Linked DNA regions of Homo sapiens. The protein of the gene in region 3 interacts with the protein of the main gene of each other region in a biochemical or structural test. Each region holds a gene or a part of one and is shown on either strand. Other genes may lie near its edges.

Evidence for each region.
Region 1: the proteins of PPP1R9A (region 3) and SLCO1C1 interact in a test that uses a peptide from one of them, tested with the Homo sapiens proteins (one large-scale study listed by IntAct).
Region 2: the proteins of PPP1R9A (region 3) and PPP1CB interact in far-western blotting, tested with the Homo sapiens proteins (one study listed by BioGRID).

Annotation. Positions count from the first base shown.
Region 1 is NC_000012.12:20,698,261-20,701,918, forward strand, and holds part of SLCO1C1 (solute carrier organic anion transporter family member 1C1), read left to right. Parts: intron 1-1,291; 5' UTR 1,292-1,316; coding exon 1,317-1,445; intron 1,446-3,057; coding exon 3,058-3,199; intron 3,200-3,658. UniProt on the Homo sapiens protein: Mediates the Na(+)-independent high affinity transport of organic anions such as the thyroid hormones L-thyroxine (T4), L-thyroxine sulfate (T4S), and 3,3',5'-triiodo-L-thyronine (reverse T3, rT3) at the plasma membrane.
Region 2 is NC_000002.12:28,754,821-28,758,478, reverse strand, and holds part of PPP1CB (serine/threonine-protein phosphatase PP1-beta catalytic subunit), read right to left. Parts: intron 1-3,658. UniProt on the Homo sapiens protein: Protein phosphatase that associates with over 200 regulatory proteins to form highly specific holoenzymes which dephosphorylate hundreds of biological targets.
Region 3 is NC_000007.14:95,246,509-95,250,166, reverse strand, and holds part of PPP1R9A (neurabin-1), read right to left. Parts: intron 3,613-3,658; coding exon of another isoform or gene 3,556-3,612; exon of another isoform or gene 3,185-3,555; intron 3,168-3,184; coding exon of another isoform or gene 3,080-3,167; intron 2,695-3,079; coding exon 2,641-2,694; intron 142-2,640; coding exon 1-141. UniProt on the Homo sapiens protein: Binds to actin filaments (F-actin) and shows cross-linking activity. Binds along the sides of the F-actin. May be involved in neurite formation. Inhibits protein phosphatase 1-alpha activity.

The DNA.
Region 1 (3,658 bases), on a different chromosome or scaffold from region 3:
TTCTCTTTCACTCACTCTTCTTTTTCAATTAAAAAATTAAAGTTATGAATGCTTATAAAATGAATCCAAAAGCCTAATAATAATTTTTTTGAAACCAGACCCTTGTCTCATCCTTTCCTTTAGTCAATTCCCACTCCCTAGAGGAATCCACTTAATTTTTAAATTGTTGAAGTCCTCTGATGTTTTAACTTCATATTATTAATACAAAGCAAATCGTTTATACTATTACTTGATTTTTCAGTTTGAGAAAGTATGAATTGAAATGGTGAGGGATGAGGTTTAGTGAACACAAAACAAGCATTGCATAAAGTCAAGGTGATATACTCAGTCAGAATAGATTTCTGCCACAATACATGAAATTTGACTCCTAACATTATTCCTTTAGGAATAACATTATTCCACTCCTATTATGTGGATATAGAAGTCCTCTATTAATGTACAATTGGGTCATCTGATAATATTAGGGAGATTGAGAAATACTTTGTTTGTTGAATTCCTTGATTTAGGTTAGATTATCAGGCAGGCACTGAGCCATGTGGAATCCTAAAGAAGTAGGGGCACAGGATATGTAAATATTGATGTGAACAGGGAGAAAATAGGTTCAGTGTGTGATCCTGTCCTGTGAGGGGCGGTGGGAAATTGAGCATGGGAAGCAAGGCTGTCTTTTTTACTTTAAGGCTGATCAAAGACTGTTCTTTCACCTGAATTAAATCTAAGGCACAAATCATGTTGCTCCCTTATTTATCAAACAAAAACAATACACAAATTGGACCTCTTCTTTTTTGTCATATTTTAAGGCTCACATTGGGTGCTACAGGAATCATAAGGTGGTACAGGGACCTATAATGAATGTAAAACTTCTATTTGTTTTGCTAAGAAGATAGATTTAAAGGCTTTAAAGACTTTATCCTAATGAATCAATATTCAAATAGTTGAATTCCTCTTCTTCCTTTCCTGCTTGCTCCTAGTTTAAACTGGCAAGACCACAAAGTTAGCAAAATTCTGCCTCATTATTTATTCCAAAGGCAACACTTAAATTTATTCTTTGCCATAATGAGGCTTAAACTGGGCAGATTGAGAAAGAATGCTGGCTACAGAGTTCCAATAGCAGGATTAGTTAATCAGATATCCTGGTTGATTTTAATTGAAAACATTTGCCAACTTACTGTGACAACAAAAGGTAGATTCACTTTAAATTGCGTCTATAGAATTGTGGTATACTGTTGAATAAAAAAATTTAATAAATTGCGTAGTATTTATTTATTTTTACTTTAAAAACTAACTTTGACAGATCAGAGTCAAGGAATGTGTTTATAATGGACACTTCATCCAAAGAAAATATCCAGTTGTTCTGCAAAACTTCAGTGCAACCTGTTGGAAGGCCTTCTTTTAAAACAGAATATCCCTCCTCAGAAGAAAAGCAACCATGCTGTGGTGAACTAAAGGTAGAGCAACCAAGAAGTAAATAGTGTTGATGCTCTTAGTTTTCTGTCCAGATATCATCTATATAATGAAGTTAGAATGAGAATTGTTTTCTCCTTTAAAAAAAAAAAAAGATCTTAGATGCAATTTACTAAAACCACACCTTGCCAGGCGGTGCAAGCAATCTCTACCTGACCATGTGGGTTAAATTACTTTCCTGGGCTCATTTAAATGCCCCCCCAAACAGAAAAGAGAGAAATAGTAGAAACTAGTATTTATTGAACTTCTGCCATGTGCCAGATATTAAGCCAAGCACAGATATAACATTTAATTTGTGAAACATCACATTACTCCCATTTTGCAAATAAAAATGGGAATAATGTTACAGAGTAGGGAGAAGAGTTGCTTTTTTTTTTTTTTAGGATTGTTGTATCAAACAATAGTTTTTAGTTTTTTGAGGAACCTCCATACTATTATATTTTCCAAAGAGACTACATCAACTTATGTAACCACTAACCATGTACAAAGATTCCCTTTTCTTTACATTCTAACCAGTTTTTATTTTTTGTTATAGCCAACAGATGTGAAGTGATATGTCATAAAGATTTTTATTTGCATCTCCATAATGACTAGTGATGTTGAGCACCTTTTTCATATACCTGTTGGCCATGCCTTCTTTTAAGTAATGTCTATTTAGATTATTTGCCCATTGTTAAAATCATGCTATTTTTCTTTGCTATTTAGTGATAGAAGTTTCTTTTTTTTAATTATTTTTTAATTATTATACTTTAAGTTCTAGGGTACATGTGCACACGTGCAGGTTTGTTACATACGTATACATGTGCCATGTTGGTGTGCTGCACCCGTTAACTCGTCATTTACATTAGGTATATCTCCTAATGCTGTCCCTCCCCGCTCCCCCAATCCCCCGAGAATAGTTGTTTCTTAAGGGATGCTTTGTGTGCTCCTATTCTTTCTTTATACAAATATTCACTCAACAAATCTCTGCTTTTTTCATATAAATGCTAACCTTCCCTATGAATGTTCTATCACAGACCCATGTCTATCAAAATATATAAGCTAGATATCAAAGACATGTTTTCCATTGAGAAAAATATTTGACTATGAATTTAATAAGTATAAACATAAACACAAGGAATAATAGTTGCACTTTTTCAGTCTGTACATTATGTTCCCGGCTGGTGCATGCACCACCCTGTGAAATACATAATCCCAAGTGCTGGACTTGTTATAGGATGTCAAGTGTTTGGCTTATGGTTTCATTTACTTTCTTACCAATGAATGTCTCACCATACACTGACTCTTCAATGTAAGACTCCTTTGAGTGCCCCTCTGGAGCAGAGTGGAAGAAGACAAAAGATAATTCAATACACATTTCGCATAAAAACCAAATATATATTTTAAATTCCAAGAGAATTTGAACTGTTGAAAACTTACAGTGCTTAAGGCTGATGGAAACCTCGAACAGTGTTTGAATTAAAGTTTCAGTGATAATAAAGTTGATATTATACATTGTTCTTTGTTGTTTGTTTTGTATTTGTTTGTCTATTTACTTAGTTTCCAATTGTGTGTCAAGCTGGAGTCAGACTAAGTGTGACCTGTCATATTTTCCAGGTGTTCTTGTGTGCCTTGTCTTTTGTTTACTTTGCCAAAGCATTGGCAGAAGGCTATCTGAAGAGCACCATCACTCAGATAGAGAGAAGGTTTGATATCCCTTCTTCACTGGTGGGAGTTATTGATGGTAGTTTTGAAATTGGTAGGTATTACAGATGCCTGACTTTAATTTTAAGCCCAAGATCTTCTAGGTGTGGCTAAAGAACACCTTCTGCATTCTATTGTCTGCTGGGATCAGACTCTATTCATAAAATCTTTTTTTTTTTTTTTGGACAGAATTTACCATGATCTTATTCTACAGGAGAGGCAATTTTCTCAGAGCAATCAACAGTAAATTTTTCTCCCCAGGTGTTTGGTATTGTATGGTTCACACAATTCAGAGTTCTACATCAGAGTAAGTGACTTTCTTGGAGGAAAGGGTGAGATGCTAATTGGTATTTTGAGTTATAAATATGTAGAAGTATCTTTACAGAAGAACAATACACCCTGGGAGCACTATGATTCAATTTTAGAGGTGTGGAATAATCCAAATGCGCTCTACAAGAATTTACTGCAATGATGAATAGAAGTTACATCATAAAAGGGATTTTTCCACCCAGTG
Region 2 (3,658 bases), on a different chromosome or scaffold from region 3:
GAATCCCCATCTACCACACCACTGCTAAACCTACTGACATTTACAAACTATTTCTTCCCCTTGCCTCCCTATATGCCACCAACATTCGAGAATAACCTTTCAGAAATACATAACAGAATTTAAGTCAGTATTTCTAAGAATCTTAACATTCCTTCATACCTGTATTACTTTACCTGTTAGAAATGTTTGAAAATGGGGCTGGGTGCCTGTAATCCCAGAACTCTGAGACTGGCCTGGGCAACAAAGTAAGATTCTGTGTCTACCAATTTTTTTTAATTAGTGGTGCATGCCTGTGGTCCCAGCTACTTGTGAGGCTGAGGTAGAAGGATCACTTGAGCCCAGAAGGTTGAGGCTGCAGGTGAGCCATGTTCATGCCACTGCACTCCAACCGGGTGACAGAGCCAGACCCTGCCTCCAAAAAAAAAAAAAATTAATTAAAAAAAATTAAAAATGCATGGCATTGGAATGTATACTCTTTTAAAAGTAATAAACGTGGAGAATAAGGAAGAAAAAGACCTACTAGATGCAACTATCTTCCCCACTAATCCTGACTCTTAATGTGGCTTTGTCTCTAGACTCAATTTAAATAATGTATTAAATCCCAACGAATCTTCATCTTGGATTTAGATATTTACCAGAAAAGCTCCAGGTCTGCATTCAGATAGCAAAATAAAAACACCTCTGGGCTACTTCTTCAAACTGTCAGTTTCCCTTACTTGCTGAACTTAATTCAGAGAAAACAAACACCTAATCTCTGAATCAGTTAAAAAATATGCCACGACCTTATGTCTCCTCTAGTATCTCATCCAGAAGAATCAAGGAGATAAAATATTCCTCGGGTGATCTCCCCCACTCCCCAACATGCTCTTTTTTCTAACAAGTCTAGCTGCACATCCACACAAAACACCTTCCCTACAGAAGTGGAGGTTGTCGGCAACAACTGACACTTCTTTCCAACCACCTAACCTTTAGGTTGCTGGGTCAGAATTAAACAATTTAATCAGTAAAGAGGCCTTAAACAACCTGGCAGCTCATCAAAAAGTTAAACATAGGGCTACCATATGACCTAGAAATCTCACTCCCAGCTATATACCCAACGGAATTGAAAGTATATGCCCACAAAAAAAAACTTCTACACAAATGTTGATAGCAGCACTACAAGTATTCACAATAGCCGAAAGAAAACAAAATGTCCATCAACTGATGAATGAATTAAAAATGTGGTGTATACATACAATGGAATATTATTCAGCCATAAAAGGAATAAAGTACTGATACATACTACAACAAAGATGAATGTTAAAAACATTAAAAGAAACCAGTCACAAAAGACAACATATTGTATGATTTCACTTGCATGAAACGTCCAGAATAGGCAAATCTAAGAGACAAAAAAAAGTAGATTAGTGGGGGCCGGGAGGGAATGGAGAGAAATGGGGTGTCTGCTACCGGGAACAGGGTTTTTTGGGGGGTATATGTGTTTGAAAATATTATACAGTTCACTGTGGTGATGGCTGCACAACTCTATAGTATACTAAAAATCATATCCTCTAAATAGGCAAACTGTATGGTATGTGAATTATATCTGGATAAAGCTGTCATTTTAAAATGGAGGGCTTTAATATGCTTTCATTAATCGATTTCATTTTTCAAATCCATTCATTTTTTTTAACCTTCAAAAGGACACTACAGGCTGGGCGCAGCACCTCGCACCTGTAATCCCAACACTTTGGGAAGCCAAGGCTGGAGGATTGCTTGAGCACAAGGGTTCAAGACCAGACTGGGCAACCAACATAGGGAGACCCCGTCTCTACCAAAATAAAAAAAATTAGCCAGCCAAGGTGTCATGTGCCTGTGGTCCCATCCACTAGGGAGGTTGAGGCAGAAGGATCGATTGAGACCAGGAAGTCGAGGCTGCAGTGAGCCATGATCAAGCCACTGCATTCCAGCCTGTCTTGAATAGGAAAAGTTAAAAGTGTAGTCTGTCAGCCTAACTAAATCTTAAGAGTACTATACCTGTTTCACAAGAAAGAAAAGGGAGATACGCACTAAGAGATCACAAGCAGTGTCACAAATTCAGACATCTGACAGGTCAAAGTTAAATGAAAAATGAATTTAAAAAACAAAACAGGTACAAACACATCCCACGATTTTCATAAAACTGTAAGTGGGCCAAAAATGTAACACAATCACATTTTGCTATGGAACTTTACACAGTGCTAATATTCTACAACTCATATTGTAATAGTCAAGTTCAGCTTCGTGGTAATATGTTAAAAAATACTTTAAGAAAAACTTTTCTATCACACAGCAAATCGCTTTTCGGTATTTTTGAAGACATTTCAATGACAAGGGAAAATGTTCATGATGTAATACTACATGAAAAATTAACTCATAAAGCTATGTAAAGAATATTCTAATGATGTAAAGCATGTGAATTTTACAAAGTATGTTAAGTATCTTTAAACAAAAATATATCAAAATTTCAACAACGGTTATCTCTGGATTGTGGAATTACAGGGGACTTCTTGAAAGAATGCTGCCCTTTCATAATCAGGAAAAAGCAAATTCTAAACAGTTTCATATTATCACATATATGACACATAATAGACATACTATATCAACTGGCACATCCCAGTTTTTAAATACCTGGATCAAGACTGTGGTTGGGAACAGAGCTGGCACTCTTATTCACCCAGCAGCAGTTTTCCATACTAACCTCCTCCCAAATGCATTAGATTCTACTCATTCCACTTCACTTCCTCCAAAATAAACTTAGCACTTATAGTTTGAATGAAGTTCCCCAGATGATTCTGCTATACTCCCATTTCCCACCCCTCTTTGAGAACCACTCATCTAAGTAAGAAGCTTTTACCGGATTTTCCAGAATACTCATACAAACTAGCTTCAATTTAAATGATCAAAACACTATGGTAAGCCACAAGAATGTGGCCAACAGGGTCACTACAGGGGATAAAGTAGAAGTCTTTGGTTTTTAGTTCTAAGCAAAAGTTAATCCAAGAAAACATACCGAAAGAATATGCACCGTCCAAATAATAAAATCAATATTTCTGTTTTACATTAAATGGCATGTTTGTATTAAAATGACCTAAAGGACTCTTTGAAAATATCATATCAAGGTCAGGCGCGGTGGCACATGCCTGTAATCCCAGCACTTTGGGAGGCCGAGGCGGGTGGATCACTTGAGGATGGAAAGTTCGAGACCAGCCAGGCCAACATGGTGAAACTACTAAAAATACAAAATTAGCCGGGGCGTGGTGGCATGCTGTAGTCCCAGCTACTTGGGAAGCTGAGGCAGAATAATCGCTTGGACCTGCAGGGGCAGAGGTTGCAGTGAGCCAACATCACCCCACCGCACTCCAGCCTGGGTGACAAGCGCAAAACTCCGTCTCAAAAAAACAAAAAACAAAAAAAACTTATCAATAATACGCCCACCTAAAAAAGAAAAACAAAAAGCAACTCATAAAATGTAGTCACCAGAAGTGTGTATAGCTGATCTGCGATTTAATACAGTAAAAAAGAAAAAACAATCAGGAATATGTTGTGGGGCTACAATCAGCATTTTAAAATGAGATCAGGTCCTGCTGAATGTTTTCCCCTAATGCAGAGAAATTCTTGCCAAATTTTTACTTACACG
Region 3 (3,658 bases):
ATTCACTGTGTGGCATAATGTTTGGGCCTCAATCCAGTAGCTTTCCAACTTCAACATTCTTTCCTTATTCTCTTCTATGTTTTGTTGGAGTTGGGTTTTTTCTAGTTCCCACCTCACTTTCTCATTTTCTGCTGCCTGCAGCTGGAGAAAGCAAACGTCAAGGCAAAGATAATTTGGCCACTTTTGTGGCAAAAATCTCTCATTTTTATAGCATGTTGTAGATCAAGTTCTATTATCATAAACAATCACTGAATCCACTTGAGATGAGAAAAGCAGGTATTATTTTTATAATTCCACAGATGATAAAATGGAAGCCTTGAAAAGTGAAATGATTTGTCCAAGGTCACACATTTGATAAGTGATAAAACATGGATTGGATTCCACCTCACACGATATTTCCATCACACCAGGTGATCTGAAATTCTGTGAGCAGTAAAAGATGTTTCAGAGTTTGATATATCCAACGAATGTCAACATGTTTTGAGAGTTTTTAAAAAATATATAATTATATATAAAAAATTAACTAAAAAGGGAGTGGAGAGGGCCAGGGAGGAGAGAGGAGTTAGAAGCACAGTATGGCTTAATGGTTAAGAGGGGATCTCTGGAGTCATTCAGCATGGATTTGAATCCCAGTTCTGTCATTATTGGCCATTAAACCTTGGACATGTAATTGAAGTTCTCCAAGACTCAATTACATCATCCATACAACAGAATTGTGATATAACACATCAGAATGCTTGAAATAGCTCCTTGGGCATAAGAATCATCTGATAAACATTAACCACTTTCACTCTGCTTTTAACCCTTTTGGTGATCTTATTTCATTCTTTATTTCAAGGAACATGAACATATTCTATAGCTCATTATTTTACATGTAGTGTAATGAATTTCTCAAGCTTTATAAACCTCAATTCCCATAAAAATATAAAAGATAGTGTAAGTAAAAGTATAAATTTTTGCTTGGTTAATTTAATTCCCTCCCACGGAACAGAAAGCCATAACCAGCTTTTTGTTTTTCTGCTTCTAGGGACTCTTAGGAATAGATAGTAAACTAGTCTAATACCCTCATTTCTACAGAAATCCAATACTGATCATTTAGGTGAGGGCTCAAAAGTCATTCCCAATAACTCTCTGGCCTTCAAACTGGTACTTTATCTACTTTATATGCCTTCTTTAAAGTTCAAAAGGATGCAAAGTCATTATAAACTATCAATGTTCAAAATCATATAGCACTTAGCAAAAGTAAACATGTATTTATATACACACACATCTATGTTTTTGCAAATATTTTTAACTAAACACATTTGCAAAACAGTTTACAAAGTTAGAAAGCATCCAAAACAATGTCAAGATTAGGAATTCTATTATCAAAATGAATAATAAAGAATCATAATAAAGTGCTAATCTGTGGATATTACATGCCAATATAATGATGAAAAAATATAAAATGCTAATTTATAGTATTTTCTAAGTTAAATGTCTATAGTCTAATACATAAGCGCCATTAAAACACAATCACAGGGAAAAAGAGATCTTTTTAAAACAACAATTTAAAAAATCTTCAATTCTTTCTATGTCAAGAGACAATGACAATTTAAAACAGGAATAGGTTATTTACTGCATCTTTTATTAAGCAATGTTTTGTATCAAGTTGTTTATTTAGCAACCGCCACTAATTTAAAATTATTATTCACGGAGCTGGACTAACACCGTGAATGATGTATAGTCGTATTTTGACTAAAGAGCTGCAGAGTGAATTAGCTGAGAATAGCATTTAACCAAAATAGCCTTGCTAATTCATCTCCATTTAAAACACACGGAGAAACCAAAACAAGTGTTCAATGTGAACAACAAAAGAGATCATTAGTGGTAGTGGTGGTGGTGATTGGGGGCGGGGGAGGGTAATTATGTTTTAATTTTTAAAAGACCATTGAAACAATAAAGAATATTGCTTTAAAAGTAATTTAAAATATATTTTTAAATCTTTGAAATTGTATATTTGATAAAACTAAACAAAATTGCTAGAATTGTGTCTCATACGAGTGCCTTAAAGTTTGTCAATGAAAATATATAGACTAATAATACATACTCCCTTTTATCAAGACCTTTTCTCCCCCACAAATTTAAATTATGTGAACCAAACAACTAAAAATTTCCAGTAGTACCTGGCACTTAAATTATGCATGTATTAAGTTTATAAGATTTAATTATTAGAAATTAGAAATGGTTTATAAAACATTGATGTGCTATACTAAATTTGTTCCTACAAATGATTAAATCTATTTATAATAAGGTAAGTGAAGAGGAGATATAGTAGCTTTGCTTAAGGAATTAGTAATCAAAACATACTTTGCATACTTGAACCATTAAAAATATTACTTTTTAAGGAAATCTCAGAGGCCACATATGTGCAAATACATAAATATATATATCTAAAATATTGTGTTATTTGCACTGAGGGGGATGTGGGTGTTTGCTCTCACTGGCAGGTTTGTCTACGTACCTGACAGTGAAAATGAATCTATCACATTTGCATTCTTTCAAATATACAGGGACAAAACCTTTAGTCCTAGGATTGGATTTATTCATAGTATCTGAAGTTTAAAAAGTAAAATTCAAACACCATGTTTCGGTGCTTACCTTGGTCTTCAATTTTTGAATCTCTGCTTCTGTAACTGCATGTTTGATTTGCAACTGAAAATTGAAAAGAAAGAAAAAATCTGAACTAAGAAAGTGTATCTATATTTGTAAAGCCTCAGCAGCTACAAGAATGCCTTATTACATAGTAAAAGGCCTAGAAAAGTGCTGCAGTGCAGCAAGTTGTAAATTAAAGTGTCTACTGTGTGAAATGACACTGGGTGCAAACTAATTAAACACAGTTTATGGTCTATACTCCCTAACATCAGATTAGGTTACCAATTTAATTGCTCAGGGACCAAGAGAAGAAAACACTTTTTATTGCCCTCTTTGCAGCTCTTCCTTTATGATTTGAGCGTCAAGGAACTGTTTCCTTGCTAAGTCTAGCTAACTGAACGGCATACACAGGCAAGTGAGCTGATAGTGTGATTTAATTCCAAACCTGGACGTGTGAAGATTTATTCCAAATCTGCAAGAAAGGTGGCGCTATGGTCCTGTGAGTTGCAAGCACATTCTGATCAGCAGCTCCACTGCAAAGGGAGAGAGGAGGAGGACTGCAGTTGCACGGGGAAATCTCTGATACATATTTTTTTCTTTTAATTGCAGGAAAGGTACAGATCCAGATTTCTGTCCTCCAAAAGATCTGCTCCTTTTGAAGACTCAGACCCCCAACAGCTTCTGCCACAGCTTATTAGCAATAAGAGTCACAGTTTACATTTGTTTTGCTTGTCCCTCCCCCCGCTTTGTTTTCTTTGTAAGGGAAGAAGAAGGAACTGAACGAATCATTCGTTTCCTTAGGGGATCAATAAATACTCCCAAATTTAAGAAAAACAACTTATGGGTTCACAATTTCTTGTCTGAAATCCTTGGGGCCAGATGTTTTTGGAAGTCAGCATTCTTCCAACTTCAGAAAAGTAGTTACGATGTATCTTCTACAAATTGCTTATTATCCACAGCAGGGTCTTTGGAGGCACTCTATAGTCAAAAACACATGAATTATTTTTGCCACCAAACATGAATA